4 linked regions of the Homo sapiens genome follow. The protein of the gene in region 2 interacts with the protein of the main gene of each other region in a biochemical or structural test. Each region holds a gene or a part of one and is shown on either strand. Other genes may lie near its edges.

Region 1 (7,550 bases), on a different chromosome or scaffold from region 2:
AAAGAATCAAGGGAGCCATTTGGATTTATTAAATGTACTGTAACATAAACAAAATATTCTTTCTTTGCATATCTTTGGTCTTGGCTAAATTCAACTGTCTTTAAGATTCCAGTTTAACCACCTTTTAAGAGATGTAGGGCAAACCTTGCACAATTGATTCATAAAGGAAAAAAAAACCTCAAATTGATACAAGCTAATATTGGTCAGATAAAATTATAAGCAAATAGAAAATGTCCCTGATAACATCATATCAAAATGAATGAACTTTCCTAAAATCCAATCAGACTAGTTCTTAAAACATCTTCCCACAATCCCTCAGTAGAAAACCCTTTTTTCCTAGTATTCAAATCCAACCTGTTCAAATCTAAGTAGAAGAGGAAGGTGATAAGACACAAATGAGGCAATTTGATCATAATCTCTCATTAGGACTCTGCCTTCTGATTTTAGTTGCTTTAGAAGAAAAAGTAATGCTCAATGTGTAGACTTCTAAAACAAAACAAATTCTTCCCCAAAGGCCTAAATTCCTGTTGTTGTTGTTGTTTTCTCCACCCAGTTATAGCTAAACCAATCCAGAAGTAGTGGAAAATGTTAAAACCAGCAAAGCAAGAGTAGAAAAGTCAGGGGGTAGCTGGAAAAAAATCTATACAGGGAAAGTTGAGAAAGTAAAAATTAGCCATCACTTAGGCTTAGATAACTGACACAAACCCAGCTGGTTGCAAAGTTAACAGGAAATAATATTTCTTCCATGGACAGACTGCAGCTGTAAAGGGTGACAGTAACCCCTCCTGTAAGTAACTTCTGCTCTGTTTCTCTAAAATGGTAGACTGTCAGAAACTATGCTGTTTGAAATTATATTACAAAGATGAGACATCCACTCTTACTTGAAGTACCTCTATTTTGATCGGTATGATTGAAAATTCAGTAAAATCTTGCTATTTAAGACTCCCTAAAGAGAGAGGAACTGCCCTTCTAATTACTGGAAAGTGTGAAGTATTGAACAACATAAATGCACTTTCCTTTTAAAAGCAAACCGTAGTTCAGTGGAGTCTAATACAGACTCAGTCCCTCAGCTGCAGCTCTAAAAAGCTCTGAAAAACAACACTTTTTTTTTTTTTGGTAAGTCTTAGAGAAGCTCTCGTAGTGATAACACCTGCTCTAAACAGACACACAGCTCTTTATAGTCTTTATTTATTCCACTTAGTGAGAATATTCATGTTCTTAAATGTAAAAGTACAGAAATATTAATGCATGGAATTACAGGATTCTCTCCAGACTATATTGGAATGGCATGTAACCAGCAGGGTCAACATGTATGTTTACCTTTCTAAATTCTGAGCAATGTCTTTCTCAGTTCTGAAATTTAGATTCTAAATTTTAATTCCAAATTCTGAAAAAGCTTGAATTCCAAAATACGTCTTGGCACAAGCATATTGGATTATAACCATGGGCAAACAATGTGCTAAATAAGTGAAGTTCTACTAAGAAGTCTTCCATTAAAAAAAAGCAGAGAGATTAGACCTGCATTTAGAATATTAAATAGGGGCCTAACAAAGATCAGGGTGATTCATTTCTAAAGTGAAATCTAGCAATAAAATAACGTTTCTACCAATTTCATCTCTCAGGAAAGATAAAGACCTAAAGTATACACCCCATTTTTATCCTAGCTTAAAACTTTCTAGTTATTAAGACTATTATAAAATCCTATTTTATATTTCACTTCAAATACAGAGGCTTAAAAAAAAATCTTCCCACAATCCCTCAGTAGAAAAATCTCTTTTTTCCTAGTGTTCAAATCCAACCTTTTCAAATCCAAGGTAGAAGAGTAAGAGGATAAGACACAAATCAAGTAATTTGATTATAATCTCTCATTCAAATACACTTTAAAGTGCACTTCAAATACAGGGGATAATACAAATCAATTTCTGTTTTAATGCAAGAGTTTTCTAAATACGTTAAAACAAAAGTGCCGTTCAGAACAAAAATGATTTGATAAAATAATTTCAACTGACAAAGATTTCTCACTTAAAACACTTAATAATTTACATGTATTTAAGCCTTTTTGAGAAAATATAATTCTATCTATGCACTGCTCGGACTTTCACTGGGGAGAAGGAGGACATCAATGTATTTAGTTGCATTTAATTAAAATGCTGCCTGTGTGAAGGCAATGAATTTGTCCCTACTAAGACAAAGAAGTCAGATGGTAGAATCAATTCCATTTCTTCCAGGAACTCTTAGGGATTAAATGGTTCCTTTTTTTATTTTTAATACCAAGAATCAGATATGGCACAACATCTTCAACTCTTTTTTTTTTTTACTACACGCTGCAATGCTTTGAACTCTACTTGAGTTCGACTGAATCTTTGCTAAGTCAGGCAAAACTCAAAAAATATTTTGCAACACTGTTTCCAACGTAAAAAAAGATTCAAACTCTCACTTCTCCAATTGTCTTTCTAGTCCTTGAACATTCCAACAAAAGAATGGATTGCATTTATATAGTTTTTAGGTGGGCTTAAGGTTTTGGAGCCACATTGCCAAAAACAGACAAACAGACAAAAAGAAACACCCTTAACTCTTAACTCAAATTTACATTTTACTACATAAAACTTTCTTGCTCTCCAAGTTCATTGGCTAAGTAAATTACTTGACAATGAAAATGTATCCACAAGAGTAATTATGCTAAATTTTAGTAGTGGTTCAGAAGGGTTGTTGTTTGAATGCAACTGCTGTTTCTTTTTGTAGTAAAAGATTTGTCTAAGCTCATAAGACGTCTGGACATTTCTACTTTGAGTAACTTTGATAAACACTGCGGCATTTTCCAGTGGATTCGTGTAAATGGCCAAAGGAAAATGTTCTAGCTCCAAGATCGACTTCCTCGCGCTGTGCCTGATCCCAATCCCGCGTCTCCCGAGGGCCGGGCCGCGACCGCACTTTCCGCGCTCCCTGGGGGCCTGGGCGCCCTGGGGTGCCCGGGTCACTTTCCGCACGGTCTGACCTCCGTCCCCTCCGCCCAGGCCTGAGCCCCTCTCTCCCGGCGCAGCTTCTGGATCCCGAGCGCGGGTAGGTTCAGGAGCGAAGCTGGCGGAACCCACCTGTATTTTATTCACATGGTTTCAGCACTTTTACCTCGGCCGATGAAGGTAGAACAAGAAAGGGCATGAAAGCAGCGCGTCGTTCCCCGTAACCTCCTCTCCTTACCAGAAAGTCCCGGCCGGGTAGGGGACGCGGCCACACCTACCTGCGCCAGGTGAGGCGAGGGCGGGCGCAGCGCGGGGCCACCCGCTCCTCCTCGCTCTCCAGCCGCCGCCGGGGTGGCCTCAGCCGCCGGGCCCGCGGCTCTTCCTCATTTTGGGCAACTTCCTTAACGCGCCCGGGCAGGCGGCCCGCACTTCCTCCCAGTGTCGCGCCCCGCCGCCCTGGCCCGCCCTGCTGACCGCGCCCATGAGCCCGGAGCTGGGCGGGAATCGGCTGAAGCGCCGGGCGAGGCCCGCGGAATCGGCCCAGGCGGCGGCAGGTGTAGAGGAGCCCGGGTGGGGCGCGCCTCTCTCCTCCCGCCGGACAAGGGCCCTTCGCAGGCAGAGAAGGTGGGGCTGCCCGGGACATGGACCGCATCGGTCCCCCTCCTCCCCGCCAGCGCGGTGGCTTCTGTGACTGCCCAGGACCCACAGACACCCAGCGGCCCTTTCCTTTTGCTATGCAGTGCCGGGGAAGAGACTCCACTGCATGGCATATTCCCTGGAGTGTATCTTGGTCACCAAACCAACAAGCTCCAAGCTACTGTGCTGGAGCACTCGGGAGGCCTGGGCAGTGCTGAGAGGGACCCTGTAGGTGAACACCAGACTTCACGGCGCACTAGTGGGCAATGGGGCACGCTGCTTCTGAAGGCTTTAATTATTACAAAAGGCTTTGCTTCCTTCTTACCATGACGGCTCTGACGTCCACAACCAAATAAATTAAACCTATAGCCCTAAGAATGGTTTTGAGATACCCGCCTGATACCCTTCTCCCAACCCATCCCCCTTTTCCTTTTGGACATTCCTCTTTAAAATGTTCCCACAAAACGGCATCCAGACCTTCTTGATAACACTGGTTGGCAGTGCCTGTTTTAAAAAGCTTTACCCTAAGCCAAAATGCGAGAAGCAAAAAAATATATATATAATGTGCTGGATTGTAATTGCCATGGAGAAAATATAGGGATGGGACTATTTACACTTATTGGAGCCCCCAGCCTTTTCTGCTTCCAGGGTTATTGGATTTTCATTCATTTTTGCCATTATTTTTTCTAAACCTGTTAAAAGAAAACTTCAGCAGAATTAAATTTAAAGCAGTTTAATTGAGTAATGAATGATTTGCGAATGGGGCAGCTTCCAGAATCACAGCGGATTCAGAGACTCCAGGGATGCCTCATGGTCAGAACATATTTATAGACAAAAAAAGGGAAGTGACATACAGAAATTGGAGGTAAGGCAGAGAAACAACTGGATTGGTTACAGGTTGGCTTTTGCCTTCTTTGAACACAGTTTGAACACTCAGCAGTGTATGAATGGTTGAAGTATGGCCACTGGGATTGGCCAAGACTCAGCTATTGTTAAAGGCACATACTCCTAAATTAGGTTTTCAATCTTGTCTGCCTATTAAGCTAGGTTACAGTTCATCCACAAGGACTCAAATATAGAATACAGAGTCCTTCTCAGATCATACTTAGGTTGCTTTAACAAACATAAATGGAAGATTTTGATAATGGTTATATTTGCTTATCATTGGACTTAATTTTGCTTCAACTACCCGAAAAAATAGCCATTGTTCCTGAGATGGAGCCTGCAGAATGTCTACAGATGGTTTTCAGAGTTGTCAGCATTATTGGAGATGAACACTAGGGGACCAGTGTGTACAAAGCAAACCCAGCCTGCACAAAGATTGCAGTTTTCTCAGGCTTTCACCTGATGGAAATGAGGGGGAAATTCTAGATCCATCTACAACCTCCTTCCTTTACACTGCTGTGTTCCTTTCCCCCTTTGAGTCACCTTCCGCATTACTTAGTATCATGTAGTAATTTTTTTTTTTTTTGAGACGGAGCCTCACTCTGTTGCCCAGGCTGGAGTACAGTGGCCCGATCATCTCAGCTCACCGCAAGCTCTGCCTCCTGGGCTCACGCCATTCTCCTGCCTCAGCCTCCCGAGTAGCTGGGACTATAGGCGCCCGCCACCATGCCCGGCTAATTTTTTGTATTTTTAGTAGAGACGGGGTTTCACCGTGTTCGCCAGGATGGTCTCGATCTCCTGACCTCGTGATCTGCCTGCCTTGGCCTCCCAAAATGCTGGGATTACAGGCGTGAGCCACCATGCCTAGCCTAAAAGATGGTTCACATTATGTATCATCAGGGAAATGCAAATGAAGACAGTAAGATATCAGTATGGCCCAAATTCGGAACACTGACCGCAGTGAACACTAGTGAGGATGTGAAGCAATAGAAATACTCATTCATTGCTGTTGTGAATGCAAGATGGTACAGCCACTGTGGAAGACAGTTTGGCAGTTTCTTATGAAACTAAACATCCTCTTACAACATGAGTAATTATAAGAGGATTGTCCTTCTTGGTATTTACCCAAAGTAGTTGGTATTTACCTAAAGTAGTACCCAGTAATTGTGCTTCTTGGTATTTACCCAAAGGAGTTCAAACCTTATGTTCACACAAAAATCTGCACACAAATGTTTACGCTGGCTTTATTTACTAAGTTTATTGCCAAAACTTGGACACAAACAAGATGTCATTCAGTAAGTGAATGGATATATAAACTCTTGTACATCAGTGTAATGGAATATTGTTCCACACTAAAATGAAATGCACTAGCAAGTTATGAAAAGAAATGGATGAAATCTAAATGCATATTACCAAGTGAAAGAAGCCCTCTGAAAAGGCTACATACTGTATAATTTCAACAGGTGATATTCTGGAAAGAGCCAAACTATCTGGATAGTAAAAAGATCAGTGGCTGCCATGGGCTGGTGGGGAGGGCAGGATGAATAGAAGGAGAACAGAGATTTTTTAGGGCTGTGAAAGTATGCTGTATGATATTACAATGGTGGATACACAGCACTATACATTTGTTAAACACCATACAATATACAACACCAAGAGGGAACATCAGTGTAAACTTCAGGCTTTGGGTGATTATGATGTGTCAAAGTAGGTTCATCAATTGTAACAAATGTACCAGTCTGATGGGGCTGTTGATAATGGGAAAGGCTGTGCATGTGTGAGGTCAGTGGGTATATGGGAAACCTCGGTACCTGCCTCTCATTTTTACTGTGAACCTAAAACTGCTCTAAAAAATAGTGTTTAATTTAAAAAAATAGTTTTTTTGGTAACAGTGGCAAGTATTCCTAATAGGCAATCCCTTAAAAGAATAAAAGCACAAAGGAAATAGAAACATCCCAAATTTCAGACATAATCATCATTACCGTTAGGTGACCCTTACAAAATTATCTCTTTCTATATGTACACATGGCAATAGATATAAAAATGGGCATCATTTTAAATATAATACATTTATTATACATTTTATCCATGTTAAATATGATATTTAATTCTACTTAAATTTAACAGAATAAAAAATTCTGAAATGGGATCTAAAGAATTGCTGATTTTATAGAAATGATTCTTTGCCACAAATGTATCATTTCTGAAATGACCCCACTTTGATTAAAGGAAAAGAAAAGTGACAATAATAAGCAGTTTTCGTCATTTCTTCTAAACCATGAGCTTTAATTTCAGACAGTATCAGTAACTCTGCTATGATACATGAACCAATTACCTCTCTCACTCCACTTCACTTCAGCTCACCTCTCACGTTTCCCTAGTTATATGAGTTTTACATAGTTAAGTTTAAAATTTTTGATTTCTGTAACCATAAACCCTCAGTGGTCTCTTCTTAGTTCTCCATTTAAAAGGATACCTTATGCACCTCCAGACCTTTCTACCACCATATCTCATTCCTACTTTCTTTGTTGATGAGCTGGATGGACTCTGTGAAGATGTGATCCCACATACTGCATCTATCAATGCTCTCCACTTTCAGGATGTTATTCTGTTGCTGTTGTATTGCAGTGACATCAAGGTGGGCACATTGTGTCTCCATCCTACTTCCCTTTGGCCTAGACTCGGTTGATTTTCCTCCCTTGCCCCTTTGGCATTGAATGTTGTTTTGGAGAAATGTGAGAACAGCCAGTCCTTTGTCCTCTTTTAGGTGACTTGCTCTTCTTTCCAGGCTGCTGGAGGAAACTTTCTTTAACTGAGATATTAAGAAACTTGACAAGGATATATACTGATACAGATCAACCAGCATCTTTTATTTCTTTTTCTTTTTTTGAGATGGAGTTTCACTCTTGTTGCCCAGGCTGGTGTGCAATGGCGTGATCTTGGCTCACTGCAACCTCTGCCTCCCAGGTTCAAGCAATTCTCCTGCCTCAGCCTCCTGAGCAGCTGGGATTACAGGCGCCCGCCACCAAGCCCAGCTAATTTTTTGTATTTTTAGTAGAGACAGAGTTT
Region 2 (7,709 bases):
AGGCTGAGAATTTGGGGCAAACAAGGAATAGGACAGAACAAAACAAGCTGTGAAACACTAATAATGGGCCAGGCATGGTGGCTCACATCTGTAATCCCAGTACTTTGGGAGGTCGAGGTAGGAGGATTGCTTGAGGCCAGGACCTCGAAATCAGCCTGGGCAAACAACTCTTTTAAAATTAGAGACCTCGTCTCTATAAAAAAATTTTAAAATGAAACGCTAACAGTGCGTATCTTCCAAAATCATCCAGTGCTCTAATTCCATGAATATAAGCTTAAATGAGCAGAAACTAAACTAAAACTAAAAATTAAAACCAAATGTCAAAGGACCCAAAAAGCTAATCTGAACAGATTTTACCTCTAATGCCAAGGCAGTCTTGTCATAAGCACAGGGTACTCTTTTCTGGATTGCTTTCGCAAAGACAGGTCCATTCTGTGTGGATGGCAAAGGGGTGATTGCTGCCCCAGGAGAACCGGAAACTGCAGGTAGAGGAGTTGTGGTCTGAGGTTGAGCGTATGCATGAGCAGGTTCTGGGATCCCATAACTGTTGGAATTCCTATTTCCATGCTTTCCGTGTGGTGAGGATCTCACAAGCTTTTCGACATAAGGGACAGGAATCATCCCAACCCGGCCATCCTTGTTCCGGGCACTCCACCACTGTTCTTCAGGCTTCTCTATTATCACTAGGATCTCACCCTTTTTAAAGGGCAGGTCTTCGGCATCATTCCCAGGAAAATCATACAGAGTCCGTACATATTCCAGGTTATCTTCTGCTGTAGGCAGGTTGGGTGCTGAGACAGATCCCATTGGTGGGCTTGGATACCTTAAGAGAGAAAGAAAATTACTCTAAGAGAAAAATCTTACTCTAAGCCAGTGCCTGTCAAACTTCTTAATATACCACTCTCCTCTATAATAAATTATTTTCCTTTTTTATGAGACAAGTTTTGCTCTTGTCGCCCAGGCTGGAGTGCAATAGCGTGATCTTAGCTCACTGCAAACTCTGCCTCCCAGGTTCAAGTGATGCTCCTGCCTCAGCCTCCTGAGTAGCTGGGATTACAGGCGCCCACTACCACGCCCAGGTAACTTTTTTTATTTTTAGTAGAGAAGGGGTTTCACCATGTTGGCCAGGCTGGTCTTGAACTCCTGACCTCGGGCGATCCACGCACCTCGGCCTCCCAACGTGCTGGGATTACAAGCATGAGCCACCATGCCCGGCCTCTACATTTTTTTTGGAGATGGAGTCTTGTTCTGTTGCCCAGGCTGGAGTGCAGTGGCAGGATCTCAGCTCACTGCAACCTCTGCATCCCAAGTTCAAGCAATTCTCCTGCCTCAGCCTCCTGAGTAGCTGGGACTACAGGCACATGCCACCACGCCCCGCTAATTTTTTCTATTTTTAGTAGAGACGGAATTTCACCTTGTTAGCCAGGATGGTCTTGATCTCCTGACCTCGTGATCTGCCTGCCTCGGCCTCCCAAAGTGCTGGGATTACAGGTGTGAGCCACTGAGCCCAGCCTTTTTTTTGGAGACAGAATCTTGCTCTGTCACCCAGGCTGGAGTGCAGTAGCGCAATTTCAGTTCACTGTAACCTCTACCTCCCGTGTTCAAGTGATTTTTCTGCCTCAGCCTCCCGAGTAGCTGAGATTACAGATGTGCAACACCATACCCAGCTAAATTTTGTATTTTTAGTAGAGACAGGATTTTGGCATGTTGGCCAGGCTGGTCTCAAACTCCTGCTGGCCTCATGTGATCCACCCGCCTCAGCCTCCCAAAGTGCTGTCATTACAGGTGTGAGCCACCACGCCTGGCTTTATTTTCCTTTCTATATTCTTAGTAGTTAAGAAGGTTCTATCATGTTGTAATTTTTGTAGTCTGTACTGTCCCAAAAGTTACTATTCTGAATGTCTTTTCAAATTACAAGTATACACACACACATACACTCCATCTCTGTTTTACAGAAACCTTTTGATTACACAGAGATACCTGGTTTAAATTTATTTTTATAATCTCAAGTAAGTTCGGAAGCTGCCTTCCTTTGGACCCTTGTCACAACCACCACACACTCTTCCTCCCAGTCCTAATCTATGGCTTACATCCTGCACACTTCCCTGGACACACAGAAAATGACAAAGGCCTCTGCCTCTGGCCTCTTGAAAAAAAAGGAACAAAAAAGGGCTTACAGACTTGCCAAATTAAAAATAATAAATCCACCAGGCGTGGTGGCTCAGACCTGTAATCCCAGCACCTTGGGAGGCCAAGGCAGGCAGATGACTTGGAGACCTGCCTGTCCAACATATCAAAACCCTGTCTCTACTAAACAGACAAAAAATGAGCCGGGCATAGTGGCACACACCTGCGGTCCCAGATACTCAAGAGGCTGAGGCAGGAGCATTACTTGAGCCCAGGAGTTAGAAGCTGCAGTGAGCTATGACTGCATCATTACACTCCAGCCTGGGCAACAGAACAAGACTGTCTCAAAACATAAATAAATAAGAGGCCGGCGCAGTGGCTCATGCCTGTAATCCCAGCACTTTGGGAGGCTGAGGTGGGCGGATCATGAGGTCAGGAGATCGAGACCATCCTGGCTAACACGGTGAAACCCCGTCTCTACTAAAAATACAAAAAATTAGCCGGGCATGGTGGTGGGTGCCTGTAGTCCCACTTACTCAGGAGGCTGAGGCAGGAGAACGGTGTGAGCCCGGGAGGCGGAGCTTGCAGTGAGCCAAGATTGCACCACTGCACTCCAGCCTGGGTGACAGAGCGAGACTCCGTCTCAAAAAAATAAAATAAAATAAAATAAAAATAAAAATAAATAGCTAGCAAGAGTAGTAGGAGCAAGAGTAATAATAAAGAGCTCATACTTATTATCTATGCTAGGCATGGTTTACGATCTTTGAAGAGATTGGATTATTTAATAGTCTGTGAGGTAGATGCTGTTATTATCCCCATTTTACAAATGAGGAGCCAAAGAAGAGGTTAGACTTGCACTCAGGGAGTCTGGTTCTAAACTCTTCACTCATAATGAGCTAATCAGCCTTAGGGACGAACCCTGCATCTGTCAGGTGTATGAGAATTAATGGCATAATGCATGTGAGGCATTCAAAATTACCGAGCAGCACCAAGCATCCAATGTACCGACATGAACACACACATACCCCTTCAAGTATATCCCTGCTTCTATTTCTTTCTCTTTTTTTTGAGACAGGGTCTTGCTGTCATCCTGGCTGGAGTGCAGAGTGGCACAACCACAGCTCACTGTAGCCTCCACTTCCCAAGCTCAAGTGATCCTCCCACTTCAGCCTCCTGAGTAGCTGGGACTACAGGCAGTTGCCATCACACACAGCCAATTTTTAAATTTTCTGTAGAGATGGGGGTCTCACTATGTTTTCAGGGCTTGTCTTGAACTTCTAGCCTCAAGCAATTCTCTCGCCTTGGCCTCCCAAAGTGTTGGGATTACAGGTGTGAGCCATCACACCCAGCCCCTGCTATTTCAAGAGCCACAGAGAGCCTGTGAACAGTCCAGTAAGTACCATATAAATTTCAGACACTATTAAGAGCACAGTCAGTTCCACCTTAGACTCCATCCAAGAGTATTTTATTATTTGTATAGTTAAAAGCAGTTAGCCAGTGTGTGGTGGCTCACGCCTGTAATCCCAGCACTTTGGGAGGCTGAGGTGGACGGATCACAAGGTCAGGAGATTGAGACCATCCTGGCTAACACGGTGAAACCCTGTCTCTCTACTAAAAATACAAAAAATTAGCCAGGTGTGGTGGCACACGCCTGTAGTCCCAGCCACTCGGGAGGCTGAGGCAGGAGAATGGTGTAAACCCGGGAGGCGGAGCTTGCAGTGAGCCAAGATCACGTCACTGCCTGAAACAGTTAAGACTCTATCTCAAAAAAAAAAAAAAAAAAAAAAAAAAAAAGCCAGGCGTGTGGTGGCTCACGCCTGTAATCCCAACACTGGGAGGCCGAGGCGGGAGGATCACTTGAGGTCAGGAGTTCAAGACCAACCTGGCCAACATGACAAAAAACCCTGTCACTACTAAAAATACAAAAGTTAGCCAGGTGTGGTGGCGTGCGCCTGTAGGCCCAGCTACTTGGGAGGCCGAGGGAAGAGAATTGCTTGAACCTGGGAGGCAGAGGTTGCAATGAGCTGAGATCACACCACTGCACTCCAGCCTGGGTGACAGAGCAAGACTCCATCTTAAAAACAAACAAAAAAAAGAAGATAGCCAAGCCCATTCATTTACGTATTGTCTATGACTGTTTTTCACTACAAAGGCATAGTTGAGTAGTTGGACAGAGACTCTATGGAAAAGCTGAAAATATTTAAAATCTGACCCTTTACTCAACAGTTTGCTGATCCCCCATCTAAATTCCTGGGTTAGGGAGGCAAAGTGTGCTTTTCAACTTCCTTGCTTCCCTGGTGAGGGGTATGTCTGTGTAGAAATTTGATAAAGATAGTTTCTATTTCCCTCCACTACTATACTGCTATAGTGACCTTGGGGCTCATTTTCTGTGTTAGTATCTGCAGAGATATTCATAAATTTGACACCAAATCAATCTCACCAGCCATAACCCTGACACAAATTCCAAGTCCTCTGCCCTATATTCTCAAACTCATTTATTCATCAAACTCCCCTGAAAATTACACATTAGTTCCACTGAAGAGATAAATACATGTTGCTCCATGTCAGATATCTTAGCCTTTCCATTAGACCCCACTGTCTAAAGAAATATGAAGCATATTCATCAGAAAATTTATTGCTTCCCAATTATTTGTTCTTTGAGCAAGGTTGAAAATAGCACCCTCCCCCAACTTCCCTTTAAAATATAAAGTGTTGCCCAGGCGCAGTGGCTCATGCCTGCAATCCTAGCACTTTGGAAGGCCGAGGCAGGTGGATCATGAGGTCAGGAGTTTGAGACCAACCTGGCCAACATGACAAAACCCTGTCACTATTAAAATACAAAAATTAGCCAGGTGTGGTGGCGTGTGCCTGTAGGCCCAGCTACTTGGGAGGCTGAGGCAAGAGAATTGCTTGAACCCGGGAGGCGGAGGTTGCAGTGAGCTGAGATCATGCCACTGCACTCCAGCCTGGGCGACAGACAGAGATTCCGTCTCAAAAAATTAAATAGATAAGGCAGGTGCAGTGGCTCACGCCTGTAATCCCAGCACTTTGGGAGGCCAAGGCGGGCGGATCAAGAGGTCAGGAGATCGAGACCATCCTGGCTAACACAGTGAAACCCCATCTCTACTAAAAATACAAAAAAATTAGCTGAGCGTGGTGGCAGGCGCCTGTAGTCCCAGCTACTCGGGAGGCTGAGGCAGGAGAATGGTGTGAACCCGGGAGGCAGAGCTTGCAGTGAGCCGAGATCGCGCCACTGCACTCCAGTCTGGGTAACAGAGTGAGACTCCGACTCAAAAATAAATAAATAAAATAAAATAAAATAAAATGCACAGGGTTTTCAAGCCCATCCAAACACCCTTGACCATGCTTCTCACTTTTTGCCTATTGTCCACTACACACTTTGAGCAGCAAAGCCCCTAACAACTAATTCGTAACTGACTTTTCTTTTCTGATGATAACGAATCTCTCAGCTCTTTTGGTTAAAAGCGTTCTCAGTTTCTACATGTATAAACCATACACAAAACATCTTTAAACCAAGTGCTAATATGTTCTAAGCTTAAAATCTCCTTATGCATGCTAAGAACCAATACAATCAACTTCTAGAAAAAGGAAGTTTCAAAGGTGCTGGTAATATTCCTTTTTTTTTTTTTTTTTTTTTTTTTGAGATGGGATCTCGTTCTGTTGCCCGAGCTAGAGTGCAGAGGCACAATCATGGCTCATTGCAGCCTCAACCTCCAAGGCTCAAGCGATCCTCCCACCTCAGCCTTCTGTGTAGCTGGGACTACAGGTGCATGCCACCACATCCGATTAATTTTTGTATTTTTGGTAGAAACAGGGTCTTGCCATGTTGTCTAAGCTGGTCTTGAACTCCTGAGCTCAAGCAATCTTCCCACCTCAGCCTCCCAAAGTCCTGGGATTACAGTCTGGGCCACCACGCCTGGCCAATGTTTTATTTATTTATTTTTTAAAGGGAGCACACAGATGATAGTTTTTTTTGGCTTGTTTTGTAAATTTTTTTGAGATAGCGTCTTGCTCTATGGCCCAGGCTGGAGTGCAGCAGTACGATCATGGCTCACTATAGCCTTGACCTCCCAGGCTCAAGTGATCCTCCCACCTCAGCCTCCCATGTAGCTGGGACTACAGGCATGAGCCACCATGCCCAGCCAATCCTTGTTTAATTTTTTGCAGAGATGGGGGTTTATGTTGCCCAGGCTGGTCTTGAACTCCTGGGCTCAAGCAATCCTCCTACCTCAGCCTCCCCACTATTTGGGACTACAGGTGCATGCCACCACACCCAGCTTACATATACTTTTTTTTTGAGACAGAGTCTCACTCTATTGCCCAGGCTGGAGTGTAGTGGTGTGATCTCAGCTCACCAAAACCTCTGCCTCCTGGGTTCAAGCTATTCTTGTGCCTAAGCCTCCCCAGTAGCTGGGATTACAGGGCCCCACTACTGCCGGGCTAATTTTGTATTTTTAACAGAGATGGGTTTCACATGCTGGCCAGGCTGGTCTTAAACTCCTGACCTCAAGTGATCTGCCTCCCTCGGCCTCCCAAAGTGCTGGGATTACAGACATGAGCCAACGTGCCCAGGCTTACTCTTTTTCCTTTTTTTTTTTTTTTTTTTTTTTTGAGACAGAGTCTTGCTCTGTTACCCAGACTGGAGTGCAATGGTGCGATCTCAACTCATTGCAACCTCCACCTCCCGGGTTCAAACAATTATCCTGCCTCAGCGTCCCAAGTAGCTGGGATTACAGGCATCTACCACCACGCCCGGCTAATTTTTGTCTTTTTAGTAGAGACAGGGTTTCACCACGTTGGCCAGGCTGGTCTCGAACTCCTGACCTCAAGTGATCCACCTGTCTTGGCTTCCCAATGTGCTGAGATTACAGGCGTGAGCCACGGCACCCTTACTCTTTTCTATGTATGAAATATTTCACAGTTAAAAAAAAAAAAAAAAAGGTAGAAAACTTAATTCCAGCTGGGCGTGGTGACTGGCTCATGCCTGTAATCCCAGCACATTAGGGGGCCGAGGCAATTGGATCACCTGAGGTCAGGAGTTTGAGACCAGCCTGGTCCAATATGGTGAAACCCCATCTCTACTAAAAATACAAAAATTAGCCGGGCATGGTGGTGGGCGCCTGTAATCGCAGCTACTCAGGAGACTGAGGCAGGAGAATCACTTGAACCCGGGAGGTGGAGACTGCAGTGAACCGAGATCATGCCACTGCACTTCAGCCTGGGCGACAGAGCGACACTGTCTCAAAAAAAAAAAAAAAAAATTCAATTCCAAGATGAGCTAAGTACTTCTCTAGTGAAACTGCTTTAACCACCATTCTTTTTTTTTTTTTTTTTTTTTTTTTGAGACGGAGTCTTGCTCTGTCACCCAAGCTGGAGTGCAGTGGTGCGATCTTGGCTCACTGCAATCTCTGCCTCCCAGGTTCAAGCCATTCTCCTGCCTCAGCCTCCCGAGTAGCTGGGACTATAGGCGCACGCCACCATGCCTGGCTAATTTTTTATATTTTAGTAGAGACAGGGTTTCACTGTGTTGGCCAGGCTGGTCTCGAACGCATGAGCTCAGG
Region 3 (8,624 bases), on a different chromosome or scaffold from region 2:
ATGCATCCCTATTTGTTTGTCTCTCCATCTTTCCAACATGCACGCATCTTTCTCCTTAGCACAACGTCCAGCTCTGGGACTAAAAGTCATAGATAATATGTTTTCATTTATTAGCTAAGGAGGGAAGAGAATGTTCTCATTAGAGAAGTCCAAGCCCACAAAAATATGGAATTCTCACAGCCCTGGCGACTGTGAGAATTTTCTTCTGGAGGGTGGTGTTGTGTTCTTTTTCCATACCTTCTTATTTTTAATTCTCCACACTGCAAGCCATTTAGTTAGATCAACCAAAGTCAATGAGAGAGGGAGGCCCAAGTACCTGAGAGTGGAGTTGGGTAACCATCCAGCCCTGAAAGTAAACCCAGGCCCTCCAGCTCAGGGTCTAAAGGAAATCAGGCAATGAGACCAACGGTAAGAAGTGGAATTTGTTCCTCATTTTCATTTGTTTTCGTAGGACTCTGCAGCTGAGTTTATCTGCTGCAGTTTGGCACTTCTTGCCCTAAGCTTTTTGAGACAAAGATTGCGAAGGAAGGAGATGAGGACAAGGGAATGAGGAGGCCCAGGAGGTGGAGCCAAAGGGATAAGAAAAAGAGGCCCCAGGCCCCTGTGTGTTTTATCAGCCGAACAGAAATGCTGCTGAAGACATGCATCTGCAAAGGTGGTGCCAACTGGGTTGGGTCTACAAGTGCGGAGCACTGGGGACCACTGAATTAGTCAGAGGTCCCCAAGCCTGCTCCTCCTCTGTCGCCATATGGCAGAGATTCAAAGGGTGGAGTCCTCTCCCCTCTGGAAAATAGCTGATAAAATTCTTTTCCCTTTTATTTTTCCCCTCTTACATGTAGCCCTGGACAGGATATGGGTGTGGGGTCAGCAGGCACGAAGGACCCAAAGGAAGAAGAGGAATGTGACGGGGAGGGCCTGGGGGTGTTGTTAGAGTGAGGATAGGGACAGGCCTTGGAAAGCTTGGAGGAAATAGATACCCTGAGCCTGACAAAGGGGTTCCCTAATTACCTGAAAGGCTTCCTGCTCCAGCCAGCACTCTGGCAGTGCTGCCTGGTGGCCCTTGAGCCCCTTACCCTGACTCTGCTCTGTGATCTCCCCCACTTCCAACAAAGACAGCCCACTTCTGGTTAGTTGCAGTGCCTATGCACATGCCACCTTCTCAAAGGGACAGAAAAAAAGAACTTCCCAAAACAAGCTCTTTGTTGGGGTAAATGATGAGAAAACAAACCACAGAAATCCCCTCTACCCTAAATTTTACAATAATAATAGCATTTCTGCAATGGCCCTATGGTAGCATTTCAAGGTACACTCAGTTATCTCATTTATCCCACAATGTATCCCAGGACTGAAAATGACTCCTAGTATTAACAAAACAAAACAAATCCAAGCAAAAACCCTAGAAAGCTCTTGGGAAGGGCATAAAACTACAATTGGCTCAAGTAGTCTGGCAAGGCTGGGAATGGGGCCTTGTGCCTCATCCCTCCCCACCAAAAGCTGGGATATTCTCAGCATATCAGTCCAAAGTTTTGCCAAGGTTGTGTTGCTCCCCCAACCCCAACCTCGGCAGGCCAAGGCGAGACTGGCACTTACCAGCTGAGGAAATAAGAAAAGGGTGGACCTCATTCGGCTGAGGACCAGGTCATCACAAGCTGTGTAGCCAAAGGAGAATGGAGCATCTGATTGGAATCTGCACCACTGGCCAACTCACCCCTGTTTTTTTGTTTTTTGTTTTTTGTTTGTTTGTTTGTTTTGAGAAGGAGTCTCGCTCTGTCTCCCAGGCTGGAGTGCAGTGCCAGGATCTTGGCTCGCTGCAACCTCCGCCTCCTGGGTTCAAGGGATTCTCCTGCCTCAGCCTCCCGAGTAGCTGGGACTATAGGGGTGTGCCACCATGCCCAGCTAATTTTTGTAATTTTAGTAGAGATGGGGTTTCACCATGTTGGCCAGGATGGTCTCGATCTCTTGACCTCATGATCTGCCTGCCTCGGCCTCCCAAAGTGCTGGGATTGCAAGCGTGAGCCACTGCGCCCGGCCGACTCACTCCTGTTATGAGGGCCTAGTCTAGCACCCACTCTAGAATTTTGAAACCTCATTGATAGCTTTTCCTTGCCCCAAAGCACACATCCAGGACTGCCAAACAGGGCAACCCAAAACTTCTCTCAGAGCTTCCTCCAGCCCAGGGGCAGCTGTCCCCAGCTGGGCGGACCCAAAGATGGACAACAGAGGAGACTGGGAACAAAGAGGTCTAGTCCAGGTCACTCTGCAGGGCCACAGTGGGTGGCCCTTAGGATGTAGTGAGAGTACAGAATTGGGAGCCCTAGAGTGCTGTAAGCAAAAGGGAGAGCAATGTACAAAGTTTCAAAAGTTTCAAACCTTCCAAGTGCAAAGAGATGAGGTGGAGAATGTCATTCCCCAAGGAAAGTAATCGAGTATAAATATTTACCGGGTGCCTATTTTTTTTTTAACCGAAGTGAGAGCAAGACCTTAAGAGTAAGGATATGTGTAGGTGAGTGGGGGCAGTGTTCTAACCCATCCACTAGCTTTAGAACTTGGAGCAGGGGCAGAGGAAGAAAACTCCAAAAGGTGACAAGTTTTGAAATTTGTGCAGGGGTGACGGTTTTTGGTAAGGCGAGCGAGGCTGGGCGCAGAGCAAATTCTGTCTACTTCTACCTCCTCCGCGGTGGGGTTGCTGAAGTGGGAATTCAAACTCAGCTTCCCAATCTTAAATGCAAGGTTTTTGTTTGGTTGGTTGTTTGGTTTTGTTTTTCCTTTTCACGGACTGTTCATTCCGAACACCCCTGGCCTGGGACCTGGAGCCTCATCCCTGATTCGCTTCCCTCGAATTCCTTAATGTCCACTTCTGGCTCTCCCAGTCCCTGTGCAAGGTGGGCACACCGGCCCCTTCCCAGCAATCCGCTCCGTGTCTATACTTTCTGAATCAACCAAGAGCCACAAAACTTTTCCTGCTTCTCTCCTCCCCAGTCTCCCGGTTCTGGCTGCAACTTCGCACTCCGCGCCTCTGGCAACCAGAAGAGACCCTGGCATCTCCAAAGCGCTTTATCTCAGTCCATTGGAACCAGTCGTGCTGACCGATTCACACCTCGGCTAACGCACACTCGCGGGGGTGATGGCCTTCCCTTCCCCTCCCACCCCCGTCAGCTCCCAGGTGAGGCGCTGGCCCCGGGGGGAAGCAGCTGTGGGCGGCAGTGCGTGGGTTGGGCAGGGGTCCCTTCCCTCCGTGAGACTCTGCTCTGCTGTTCAGCCTCCCAGAAAGCCTCCACCCTCCCCGCGGCGAAGCCAAGCGGCCGCGGCGCGCGGGCGGTACTCACGCAGCAAACTCAGCAAGCAAAGCGCGGTCCAGCCCCGCGGCATCCTGGGCCCTGCGCGCGCGCCCCTGCGGACCAGCATCCTTCCCGCGCGGCTCCTAGAGAGACGCACCGAGTGGAAGACACTACTCGGCTTGGCCAGGACGCGCTCTTCCCGCCCCCTCCGCCCGGGAGAGGGGTGGGGGATTCTTGCTTTTTTCCTCTCTTCTCCCCTCCCTTTTTAGTCTTGGCAAGGCAGCGCCTCTCCTTGGCTGCTACTAACTTGAGCTCCCCTGGTTGGTCCCAAAGGCGGAGGGCGTTAGGAGGGAGGCTGGGTTGCCGCCGTCGAGGCCAAAAAAGGTGGAGGTTTGTTCGGGCTCCAGATGCCTCGTTCAGCTTTCTGGAGAGGCCCCATCCCACTTCTTCAAGCTCCACTTCCACTTAACTTTTAACCCCTTTGTGGCAGCCTTGCCGGTGGCCAGGGCAGGGGCAAGTTTCCTCCGATTTTTTCCCCACTTTTCTTTCCTTGTGATTTTCCTTTATTTTTAAGTTGTAAGCCAGTAACAATCTTGCAAAAGGAATCTACTGTAAGGACCTCAGTTTAGAAGTGTGAGCATTTCGTTAATCAGGTAAAACTTAACCACAATGTGGCACATTTAGTGATAGCCTCACCAGATCCTGTGCTGTGTGTGAGTGAAGCGTCAGGAGTGAGCAGGTATACGTGACTATAAGTATTCATTTTGGCTGTCCAAACCATTCTTGGAGACTTTTTCTTTCTTTTCTTTTCTTTTTTTTTTCCTGCAAGACCTTTTTGTGTTATGTTAACTTTTTGCTAACTTGTGTTAACTTTTCCTGTGACCTTCCATATTTCCCCATTTAGTTCCCCATCACCATCATCCTAAAGAAAAAGGACTTCCCTGGATGCCTTCTCACCAGTTATCCCCTCTCCAGCCCTGGGTCTAAGCCACTAGGGATTTCACCTTGCTCTCCCATCAGAAAAAGGACTTTCTGTGACTCCATCCTCCACCACTTGATAGATCCTTGAGCTTCCTGTTCCTCACCAGTTCCTCTGGGTGTTGGTTGTACTGAATAGAAGAAACTCTGAGCCGGGTAGGCAGCCTAGTCTTGGGGACGTAGAGACGGGAGAAAGGAGAAGCCAGCCTGGGCAGATGATGGCACCAGGGGAGGATCAGATAAGGTATAACCTGGGAGAGGCTGCTCTGATATCCAGAGCAGAATCATGAAATTATAAATACTCAGTTCAGGCTCTTCCATGATGTCTGTACCACATAGCCTAAAGGGAAAAAAGAGAAGCCAGACCAGCACTCTGTGGTCCTTTCTGATTTCTCCGCAGACACTCTAGCATTATAAAAGTAGCTTTACCTTTATAGTCCATCTCAAACCTACTATGCGTTGGGGTTGCACAGGAGAAGGATCCAGGTCTAAAAACAAACCCAAAATCTCCTTATTCTGGTCTTGTTGCCTAGCATTCCTTTAAACAGGGAACAAAGTCTTTCATCACACAATAAGAGCAAAGGCCTGATATGCTAATTTGATTGAATACAACGGAATGGTATGAATCTGTTTCAAAGTACAAATGATGATTCAGAACTGATCACATAGTGATGGCAAGGGCCTGGGGACAGAAGGAGTGGCAAACATGCATTTTAAAATCAGTCATTGGTCCTTGGGACTCCCAATTAACAGGGAAAAGGAGTTAGTTCCAACACTGCCAGGCCCCCCACTCCCCTCAACTTCCTCAGCTCCAGGGACCGCTCGGTCTGCTTCAGGCATCCAGTGTGCAGTTGAGAACAAATGTGGGGTTGTAATCCCTGCTAGATATGAAAGCTAATTTGGTCCACTTTAACTTCCATTTCCAGATTTTTTTTTTCTGGTTACTTTAAATACCATTTGTCTCCCATAGCTGGACCACGGGAAACAGGGGAAATAACTTGTCTTTCTTTAGTACCTGAACTTCTTAACTAGCTTTGGGAGCAAAGAGAGAGAGAATGATTCTGTGGAGCAGAGTTTTCTCAAAGCATGGTCTACACAGAATCAAGGGTGAGGGCCAGAATCTGTACTTTGAGTAAGTATTCTCCATGACTCATGCACACTGAGGTTCAAGAAGCCCTGGTATAGAAAGAACACTTGCTGGGTACAAGGAGCAAGGGCGAAGTGGATGTCAGGCTTCAGGGAGGAAAAATAGAAGTAGGGGATATGGGAGGCTGGCAAATCCCTTCCTCTGAGAGACCAGAGCTGTTTCTTCTCTGGCTTGCAAAGGTTATGGATAGCCCCAGAACTACAAAGCTAGACAGTGATTGGCCACTCTTCATATTTTCCAGGGTCACTGAGACTCATCACCCCAAGCACACACACCCTTGCCCAAGCCACCCCCAAACACACGTTCTGGCCACTGGACACAAGGGTACCCAGGGACCCCAGCCTTACATTTCCTCACAGGCCAGGTAGAGTTGAGCTATGTAGTCTCTTCAAAGTTCTAGCCTTTCTGGGCTGCTCCTCAATTCTCTGCTCTCCTGCTTCATAAGCTGTTGCTAGAAGATGTTAGCTACACCGCACAAAATGGAGGATACAACAGAAATACACTGAGTCAGAGGCTGTCTCAGGCCCTTTACAGACCCTTGGAGGTCACAACCACTTTTACTATTAAACATCCCTTACCTCACCCCTCCCCAAAATACACACGCATCATGTCAATCAACCTAAAAGAGGACCTCATCCTATGTCAAATATGTCTGATGTTAAAAAAGTAAGGAAAATGGTTGTTATAATTCTGAATTTTAAAATATATTCATTTTGTTCTTATAATTCAAACTTTATTATATTTACATGAAACTATGAAAGAGTTGAATTGCAGTTTACAAGTTGAGTTGACATTTTTGTAGGCATTTAATGAAAAATTTGTGAATTTTGATTTTCCAATTTTATATTTTGGAACCAAGACTTTTTTCCCACATTGCAAACTTTTTTTTTTTTTTTTTTTTCAGTTTGGCAGGGATCCTTAGCGGTAGAAGTGTTCAGATGCTGGACTGATGCAGTGACAACCTGCAAGTCCCTTTTTTCCTCTTTCCACCTTCTAGTCTCCCTCCAGTGCCTCCTCTTGGCAGAACCTAACAAGAAATCAGCTGACAAGGGAGTCTGGGAACCAGTGTCCTGTGGTAAGTCACCATGATGCAATGTTTGCCTCCATGATAGGCAGGCTATTCCAGAGGCCACAGATCAGGAAGACTCAGACCAAATTATGATGATCAAATCACAAGGGTTATGGAATCTATTTAAAGCATAGAGCCAGAACCAAGGGGACAGATTTACACAAGGTTGATACACTTGGGAATGCAAGCAGGGCAAAAGTCCTGCACAGTCTCACAGCCTCAGTCATGTGTTTCGCTCTGCAGTGGTATAGTTATGAGGACCAGAACTGAGATTGAGTAAGGGGATCAATATGAGGAAGATGCTTAGAACCAAGGTATACTCATTCTATTGAGAGATGTTTAAGGGTAGGTAGGCTTGGCCACAGGTCTTTGTCAGTGTTCTGGGAAGCCATACTTTTTGCCAGTATTTCTTGGGTAGAGCTTATGGGGGGCCAGAAGGTGCCACCAGTAGGTAGTCAATTTAGGGATGACATGGACACCAGCCAGAAGGTGGCATAATCTATACCTCATGGCTTATGATTTGTTTTTTCCTATCCTTTTCTGCCTGTAAGTAGCACTCTTGTTTGTTCCATCCTTTTGTAGTCTATTCCATTTATTCTGTTTTACATGTCTTGCAGGTTACTAACTTACTATAGATTGAGAATCCCAAGTCTGAAATTTGAAATGCTCCAAATTCTGAAACTTTTCGAGTACTGACATGGCACTCAAAGGAAATGCTCATTGAGGCATTTTGGATTTCAGATTTCTGGAATGGGGTGCTCAACATATAAGTGTAATGCAAGTATTCCAAAATCCAAAAAGTATCCCGGATAAGGGATACTCCATCCTGCATTTTTAGCACATCTTCTGAATTCTGCCTATGTCTCACAAATGACTTGCTTACTTTGTATCTATAGTTAATACATCTGATGAGTTTCACCCACCTGCTTTTCTTGTCCTCTGTATGAAACTGAATATTCTCATGTAACAGAGCAAACACACATTGTAGCCAGTATTATAGAGAAAAGTACAGAGGAGTAGGTTGGGGCTGAGGGAGACAAAATAAATAACTAGCAGAAAACCAGTTTTATGTATTTTTCATACAGCTAACCATTTTCCTAGTTGCATTTACTGAGTAGTCTCTTCTTTCCCTTCTGACCTGACATGCCATTTCTGTCGTGTTCCACATTTCATACGTATGTGGGTCTGGCTCTAGGCTCTCTAGCATTGGTCAGTATGGACACCCCAAGTGCCTTCGCCATTGCCTTATTTACTGTAGCATTAAATAAGTTCAGACATCTGTAGGGCAAGTTTTCCTCTCCCAAATTGTCTTCAGAAATGCCCTGACTATTCTTGGCTCTTTGTTCTTCCAAATAATAATAATAATATACAATTTTATAAATGCTTATCAGATTTCCTTCCAAAACAGCCTTTTGGATTTTGATCAAAATTCCTCCATAGATCAACCTGGGGAGAACGGAATCTTTCCTTCAGAGAACTTGGTATATATCTCCATTGTTTGAGTCTTCATTAAAGTTTATAATTTTCCCTGTAATGGTTTTAATTCATTCATTATTGTTAAGTGATAAATTCATTTAATTCATTGTTAGATTTATTCCTAGGTAATTTATGTCCTCTAAGACTATGGCAAATATTATCTTCTTTTTAATTATTTTTGTTGCTGGTGTATGAAATTGCAATTTATTGTTTTATATTAATCTTTTATTGAGCTACCTTATTAACTTATCTTATTAGATTGAAGTATTTCTAGATTATTTTGGGTTTTATATGTAAATGATCATATCACAAGCAAATAGTGATAATTTTATGTTTCCTTCCCAATCCTTCTGCAACTGATTTGTTTTACTTAAGTTAATATACTGGCAAGAACATCTAAGGATAGAAAGGAGTGGTGATCATGCACATCCTCACCTCATTCCAGATTTTGAAGTGTAAGCTTCTAATGTTTCCACATTTGCTTAATTTTTTAAATGTGCTTTTTATTTATTTAGTTATCATTTTTAAATTATTATTTTATCTTAGAGACAGGGGCTTGCTATATTGTCCAGGCTGGTCTCGAACTCCTGGCCTCATGTGATCCTCCCACCTTGGCTTCTTAAAGTGCTGGTATTATAGGAATGAGTTGCTGCAACTGGCCTATATGTGCTTTTTA
Region 4 (7,709 bases), on a different chromosome or scaffold from region 2:
CCAATGAAGTATGTAGATATGAAAACAGGAGGCTGCTAGGTAAGATTCATTTTATTGGCACTGGTTCCAGATGCCAGCATCGTGATGAACGCTATTTGACTTCTGATATCCCTTGACGTAGGTACTGTTGGGGATGTTTTCTTTCCTGGTGGAAATGGGAAAATGATTAGAGACCAGAGGTCAGGAGACCTGAATTCTGTTCCTGGTGCCTCCCTGACTCAGTATTTTGTTTGTTTGATACGTTAGAATGAAAGCTCCCAGAGGTTTCTAAGGACAGCACAGTTTGAGCATTGGCTTTGTAAAAGTACTCTGGTGACCTGTGGAATTACAGTTATAATCATCATAATAATGTCCAATGAAGAGGCATACTGAGGAAGGCATGAGAGGAATTTTAAGTGGCTAAACTCTATTTGCATTATTCATTTTACAAATTGTTTCAGAGCCTTAAAGCAAATTTCAGTATGCGGTACTTTAGATGCAAAATGCTCCTCTAGGACTTTCATAAGTTACACACAAGTATCCCTTAAAGTATATTTCAGAAATATGCTTGCAGTGCATCAACTCTATCTGATGAACTTTGAGATGATCACAATTAAGGGTGATAGAGATATTTTAGGGATTTTTTTTCTCATTGGGATTCAAGAGGGATTTAAAAGTTTACTAACCTGGGCCAGATGCAGTGGCTCACACCTGTAATCCCTGCACTTTTGGGGGCTGAGGTGGGTGGATCACCTGAGGTCAGGAGTTTGAGACCAGCCAACATGATGAAACCCTGTCTCTACTAAAAATACAAAAAATTAGCTGGGCATGGTGGCGTGCACCTGTAATCTCAACTACTCAGGAGGCTGAGGCAGGAAAATCACTTGAACCCGGGAGGCAGAGGTTGCTGTAAGCTGAGATTGTGCCACTGTACTCCAGCCTGGGGAGCAAGAGCAAAACTCCATTTCAAAAAAAAAAAAAAAAGTTTACTAACGTGGTGTCTACTTGTCTCCTTCCTGTTATGTCTTCTTTCTTTGGTTTCTTTCTATCTTTTTATGAGGGAGAGTTGAGGGATGAGTGCTTAGTTAGGAGGCAAGGAGATTCAAGGACTCAGGCTTGGAAATTTACACCTCTGTGCCTTCTCTCCCACAGGTGATAACCCCCGTGAGGACAGGCCATGGCTACGTATACGAGTACCCATCCAGATACCAAAAGGACGTCTATGATATCCCTCCTTCTCATACCACTCAAGGGGTGCGTACCAGAACATGGTCACAAGAGGAGAAGCGCTTCTAAGGGTAGCATTCCTTCAGGGCTGTAGAGAAAAGGGAGTTCACAAATTATGCATTAATATATGTCATATGAAGCTTTGTTTAGGTTGTCTACCCAGTAGCCACTTTAGCCAATGCTATTTAAATTATGTTTTCTGGATTTGCTTTATCAGGAAATCCTAGTATTTCACCCAAGAGAGCTTATGTTCTTCTACAATTTTGCTTCAGAAAGTAGATTTTTCTTTTTTCTTTTTTTTTTTTTTAAGACAGAATCTCACTTTGTTGCCCAGGCTGGAGTGCAGTGGCTCTATCTCAGCTCACTGCAACCTCCACCTCCCAGGCTCAAGCAACTCTCCTGCCCCTGCCTCAGCTTCCCAAGTAGCTGGGACTACAGGCACACACACCACCATACCTGACTAATTTTTGTATTTTGTAGGGACAGGCTTTTGCCATGGTGGCCAGGCTGGTTTTGAACTCCTAACTGCAAGTGGTCTGCCCACCTCGGCCTTCCAAAGTGCTGGGATTACAGGTGTGAGCCACGGCCCCCAGCTGGAAAGTAGAAAATTTAAACTACACTTTAAAGTACAGACAGCGTAGATATTTCACATAAGATCTTTTTTTTTTTTTTTTTTTTTTTTTTTGAGACAGAGTCTTGTTCTGTCACCAGGCTGGGAGTGCAGTGGCACGATCTCAGCTCACTGCAACCTCTGCCTCCCGGGTTCAGGCGATTCTCCTGTCTCAGCCTCCCAAGTAGCTGGGACTACAGGTGTGCACCACCACACCCAGCTAATTTTTGTATTTTTAGTAGAGATGGGGTTTTACCATGTTGGCCAGGATGGTCTCGATTTCTTGACCTTGTGATCTGCCCACCTCAGCCTCCCAAAGTGCTGGGATTACAGGCGTGAGCCACCGTGCCTGGCCAAAATCATTTTTATATTAAATGTAAGTTAAAAACCATAAAATGTATTAAAAAAAAAGGCAATAAATCTGTTATAACATGGAGCACTGCCAAAGATCAAGCTTGTACATAACCTGGTAAATAAATCCATAATTAAGTGCTTAGGAGCATAAAAAATGACCAAGTATAAGACATTTCCATTCTGGGTAACTCACGGGTTTCTCTTCAGGTATACGACATCCCTCCCTCATCAGCAAAAGGCCCTGTGTTTTCAGTTCCAGTGGGAGAGATAAAACCTCAAGGGGTGTATGACATCCCGCCTACAAAAGGGGTGAGTGAGTGACTACAAAGCAGCAAAAAGGAGTGTGTGTGTGTGTCTGTGTGTCGGGGGGTGCAGGGTTGGGAGGGTGGGTAAGTAGTTCACTCGAATAAAACAAGAAAGGCAAACCCAAAAGGGGAAAATGTAGTCTTGGTGAGAGTAAAGGAAGGAAGCAAAAAAGGAAAGGCACTAATTAAAGATAGCTCTAGGGATTTCATATTGAGAAGCCCCAACTAAAAAACACTAGGTGGCCAATAAGGATAACCCTTTGGCAGGGAAGATAATTAGTTCAGTTTGGCAAGTACTAATATATATTTGTAGAGGGTTTGTTTTGTTTTGTTACATTTTGTTTGAGACAGGGTCTCGCTCTGTCACCCAGGCTGGAGTGCAGTGGCGCAACCACAGCTCATTGCAGTCTTTACTTCCCAGGCTCAAGCAATCCTCCCACCTCAGGCTCCCAAGTAGCTGGGACCACAGGTGCACGCCACCATGACTGGATAAATTTTATTTTTTGTAGAGACGGTGTCTCCCTATGTTGCCCAGGCTTGTTTTGAACATATGGGCTTAAATGATCCTACTACCTTGGCCTCCCAAAGTGCTGAGATTACAGGCTGAGCCGCGCCTGGCCTGTAGAGGGTTTGACAGTTTCCTCAGTGTGTATGTTTGAGTGAACTCGTTTGACTCACTCTGTTACCCTATGGGGTATGCCTGCACAGGAGGCACAGTAATCCCTACTTTACAGACAAGGGGACTGTGTTTCAGACGCCTATGCAGCTCATTCAGCATCACACAGCTGGTGTGATAACCAAAAAGACCGGGGGAGAACTCTGGTCTTACTCTGCCTCTCGGCACAGATCAGCAGAGAAAGGATACCCAGGAGGTGGTCAGAAACACAGGACTGGAAACACAGGGTGAGCAATTTAGCCAGGAGGGTTGTACATACGAGTCTGCACCAAGAACGTGGGGTTGGACACACTTGGCAAAGGACAAGGGAAGTGACAGCAGAATAACGGGGAACCTTGGAAGTGCCTAACATTGGGGCGGGGGAGGGCGACCGAAAAAGTGCCAGCAAATAGGACTGAGCACATGGGACCACAGGTTCCCATGAGCCAACTCAATAAATAGCATTTCGCTTTCTACTTGCTTTGCAGGTATATGCCATTCCGCCCTCTGCTTGCCGGGATGAAGCAGGGCTTAGGGAAAAAGACTATGACTTCCCCCCTCCCATGAGACAAGCTGGAAGGCCGGACCTCAGACCGGAGGGGGTTTATGACATTCCTCCAACCTGCACCAAGCCAGCAGGGAAGGACCTTCATGTAAAATACAACTGTGACATTCCAGGAGCTGCAGAACCGGTGGCTCGAAGGCACCAGAGCCTGTCCCCGAATCACCCACCCCCGCAACTCGGACAGTCAGTGGGCTCTCAGAACGACGCATATGATGTCCCCCGAGGCGTTCAGTTTCTTGAGCCACCAGCAGAAACCAGTGAGAAAGCAAACCCCCAGGAAAGGGATGGTGTTTATGATGTCCCTCTGCATAACCCGCCAGATGCTAAAGGCTCTCGGGACTTGGTGGATGGGATCAACCGATTGTCTTTCTCCAGTACAGGCAGCACCCGGAGTAACATGTCCACGTCTTCCACCTCCTCCAAGGAGTCCTCACTGTCAGCCTCCCCAGCTCAGGACAAAAGGCTCTTCCTGGATCCAGACACAGCTATTGAGAGACTTCAGCGGCTCCAGCAGGCCCTTGAGATGGGTGTCTCCAGCCTAATGGCACTGGTCACTACCGACTGGCGGTGTTACGGATATATGGAAAGACACATCAATGAAATACGCACAGCAGTGGACAAGGTGGAGCTGTTCCTGAAGGAGTACCTCCACTTTGTCAAGGGAGCTGTTGCAAATGCTGCCTGCCTCCCGGAACTCATCCTCCACAACAAGATGAAGCGGGAGCTGCAACGAGTTGAAGACTCCCACCAGATCCTGAGTCAAACCAGCCATGACTTAAATGAGTGCAGCTGGTCCCTGAATATCTTGGCCATCAACAAGCCCCAGAACAAGTGTGACGATCTGGACCGGTTTGTGATGGTGGCAAAGACGGTGCCCGATGACGCCAAGCAGCTCACCACAACCATCAACACCAACGCAGAGGCCCTCTTCAGACCCGGCCCTGGCAGCTTGCATCTGAAGAATGGGCCGGAGAGCATCATGAACTCAACGGAGTACCCACACGGTGGCTCCCAGGGACAGCTGCTGCATCCTGGTGACCACAAGGCCCAGGCCCACAACAAGGCACTGCCCCCAGGCCTGAGCAAGGAGCAGGCCCCTGACTGTAGCAGCAGTGATGGTTCTGAGAGGAGCTGGATGGATGACTACGATTACGTCCACCTACAGGTAAAACAGCGGAACTCATAAAACACCTACACTCACTCACATGCAGGGAGCCTGAGAAAGATGCCTATAAGGATGTCGGGTTGGACTGCCAAAGGAGAGAACATAATTAATGTTAATCTACATGGTTCACAAATTGGAGGGAGTGTCGTAGAGTAGTAAGAACGCTGGGCTGAGAGTCCTGAGTACTCACTCAGATCTAGCCCTTTCTCTGACGTTTACTGTGTGACCAACTTATTCAACCTCCTTGGGCCTTAATTTCCTCATTTGCAAAATGAATGGGGTAAGGGGTTGGATTAGATCCCGTTGATATACCTCAGGTAAGAGGAGACTCACCAAGTAGGATAATAGGCCCTCTAATAATAATACCAGCTCCACTTCTATTTGTGTTTTATGTATAGTTCCATGCAATATTTTATTTGAAAAAAAAGTTTTCGTCATTAAGAAAAAGAATAGAAGACCTTTGCACCAGAGAATTTCTAAGGCCCCTGCTAGCCCTACTCTGTGTATGTGTGTGTATAATTGCTTTAAAACTTAGCCCCATCTCAGACTTACCTAGAGGACCACTGGGCATTAGCTAGCTGTCCTAGGAGCTTAATCTGTGTATGGGACATTGGATAGTCACAGTTGGCCTCCTACAATTGGGAATTCTACCAAGCTCCAAGTTGACCTGGGATTCCGACAGCTTTCCCTTCCACTTTGAGGGATTAAAACATTCTACTGGCTGGGCGCAGTGGCTCACGCCTGTAATCCCAGCACTTTGGGAGGCTGAAGCAGGTGGATCACAAGGTCAGGAGTTCAAGACCAGCCTGGCCAATATGGTGAAACCCCATCTCTACTAAAAGTACGAAAATTAGCCAGGCATGGTGATGCACGCCTGTAGTCCCAGCTACTTGGGAGGCCGAGGCAGAAGAATCACTTGAACCTGGGAGGCGGAGGTTGCAGTGAGCTAAGATCGTGCCACTGGACTCCAGCCTGGGCGACAGAGCGAGACTCTGTCTCAGAAAAAAAAAAAAAAATCTACCAAGATCCATTGTTTAGGACTAGGCTTACTATCTTATTCTGCCATTCTTTTAATTTGACTGAGAGTCACAGATTATACTGAGAACTACGTAACTATTATGCCAAATTCCCTCAAGCGCAAGAAAGTGTGGCAAGGAGAACTGAGCCCCACCTGATGCTGAGGAAGGAAGTGGAGAGAGAGAGGATGGAGGCATTGAACATTCATCTTACTGGTTGTCTGACCCTGCACAGTGGGAACTACTGCCTTGGAGCAGAAATCTATAGATGATTTGAGGGAACTAGAAGTGAGAGGTGGACCACATTTAGACCTGCATTTGGGGGTTTACAGGTTCACATATAATCTATGAGAAAAGAACCCAGAGACTATAAAAAGAACATTATATATGAGATTTGAAGGGAATCATGAGTAGCTCTCCGAAAATTTTAAGGTGCCCCAGAAAGCTGGCACCCTATATGGCAATGGGCTTTATTTTTCTGCCACCCCTGTCGTCTAGGGTTCACAGTGCCTCACTGGGCATTTGAGATGTTGCCAAGGCAGTGGAAAATAAAGAGTATTTACTCATCCGTCAATGAAATTGTTAGCATAAGTGAATCACAGTGATGACATAATATGTTCTTTATGTTGAAAATTAACAGGGTAAGGAGGAGTTTGAGAGGCAACAGAAAGAGCTATTGGAAAAAGAGAATATCATGAAACAGAACAAGATGCAGCTGGAACATCATCAGGTAAGTTCAATCAGAGCAAAAACTGCTTGGCATTGGAAAGATTTCCCACCTAGCACTAAGGAAAGGTATCACTTCAAGAGATTATGATTTTGATTCTTCCAGCTCACTGGCAGGAATCAGCTCCAAAGCACGGAATGGGGTTTAAAAGCAAAGAGAAGGTTTATGACCTTGTTAGTTCAACTGGGTGTACCTGGGTTCCATCTAAACGGCAATTTTTTTAAAGGCTAAACCTGCATATCTAACATATGAGGACTATTTGGGTTAAGGCATTTGGTCTCAAGAAACAAGACCCATTCAAGCTAGCCTAAGCAAGCAGGTTTATAGTAAAGCCACAGTAGGGGAATTCAGTAACAGAAAGTGAAGATAGAGCCAGGTCTGGGGAGAACTAGAACTGTAAATTATCTCTCCTTCTTGTAGTTCCTTTGCTTCTTTCTATCAGTCTACTTCACTCTCACCTATTTTCTGGTTTTCTCTAATTATCTACTCATTTGGCTCCCCTGTAACTTTGCAGAACCCATAAATGGCCACTCAGAACTTCTATAGATGGCTTTTCATCTCGGCTTCCTCTTCCGATGGTTAGCTCCCTTCTCTTGTTCATCAGATTCCCAAGAAAGAGTCTGATTGGGCCACGTTGATTGGGCCATTTCTCTTTCTCTCTCTCTCTCTCTCTTTCTGTCTCTACCTCGCTATTTGTCTCTCTTTCGCCAGCAACACAAGCCTATGGTTTGCCTGGCCTTGGTCCAATCTAAAGGTAGGAGAGCAGAATTCAATGTTTTCAACATATATCCAGGCCTATCTACTGAGGACTTTGGGCAGGGCATGTTCATTCAAAAGCTGGGTATGAGTAGGGGAGATAATGACGACTATTGCTAGAACAAGGGCATACAAATAAAGAGAGATGGATTGAGGATTTATTTACAAGCCTTTTAAGATGAAATGAAGTGAAATGGCATGTAATGACATGAAATGGCATGCTATATTTAGGAAATCTGAGTTCTAATCCTTTCTGGCCAACCAACTATGTCAAGTCAGGTAACCTCCCCGAGCTTCAGTTACTTCCCTATAAAATGGGAAAGTACCCCCCCCATCTAATGACATGATAT

Evidence for each region.
Region 1: the proteins of CRKL (region 2) and SYK form a complex in vitro, tested with the Homo sapiens proteins (one study listed by BioGRID).
Region 3: the proteins of CRKL (region 2) and CD34 form a complex in vitro, tested with the Homo sapiens proteins (one study listed by BioGRID).
Region 4: the proteins of CRKL (region 2) and NEDD9 form a complex in vitro, tested with the Homo sapiens proteins (one study listed by BioGRID).

The regions. Positions count from the first base shown.
Region 1 is NC_000009.12:90,797,582-90,805,131, reverse strand, and holds the start of SYK (tyrosine-protein kinase SYK), read right to left. Parts: upstream 3,314-7,550; 5' UTR 3,239-3,313; exon of another isoform or gene 3,093-3,238; intron 1-3,092. UniProt on the Homo sapiens protein: Non-receptor tyrosine kinase which mediates signal transduction downstream of a variety of transmembrane receptors including classical immunoreceptors like the B-cell receptor (BCR).
Region 2 is NC_000022.11:20,926,893-20,934,601, reverse strand, and holds part of CRKL (crk-like protein), read right to left. Parts: intron 824-7,709; coding exon 358-823; intron 1-357. UniProt on the Homo sapiens protein: May mediate the transduction of intracellular signals.
Region 3 is NC_000001.11:207,907,676-207,916,299, forward strand, and holds the start of CD34 (hematopoietic progenitor cell antigen CD34 isoform a precursor), read right to left. Parts: upstream 3,451-8,624; 5' UTR 3,406-3,450; coding exon 3,327-3,405; intron 3,164-3,326; exon of another isoform or gene 2,980-3,163; intron 2,883-2,979; exon of another isoform or gene 2,693-2,882; intron 1-2,692.
Region 4 is NC_000006.12:11,187,115-11,194,823, reverse strand, and holds part of NEDD9 (enhancer of filamentation 1), read left to right. Parts: intron 1-1,131; coding exon 1,132-1,233; intron 1,234-2,377; coding exon 2,378-2,479; intron 2,480-3,618; coding exon 3,619-4,860; intron 4,861-6,516; coding exon 6,517-6,606; intron 6,607-7,709. UniProt on the Homo sapiens protein: Scaffolding protein which plays a central coordinating role for tyrosine-kinase-based signaling related to cell adhesion. As a focal adhesion protein, plays a role in embryonic fibroblast migration.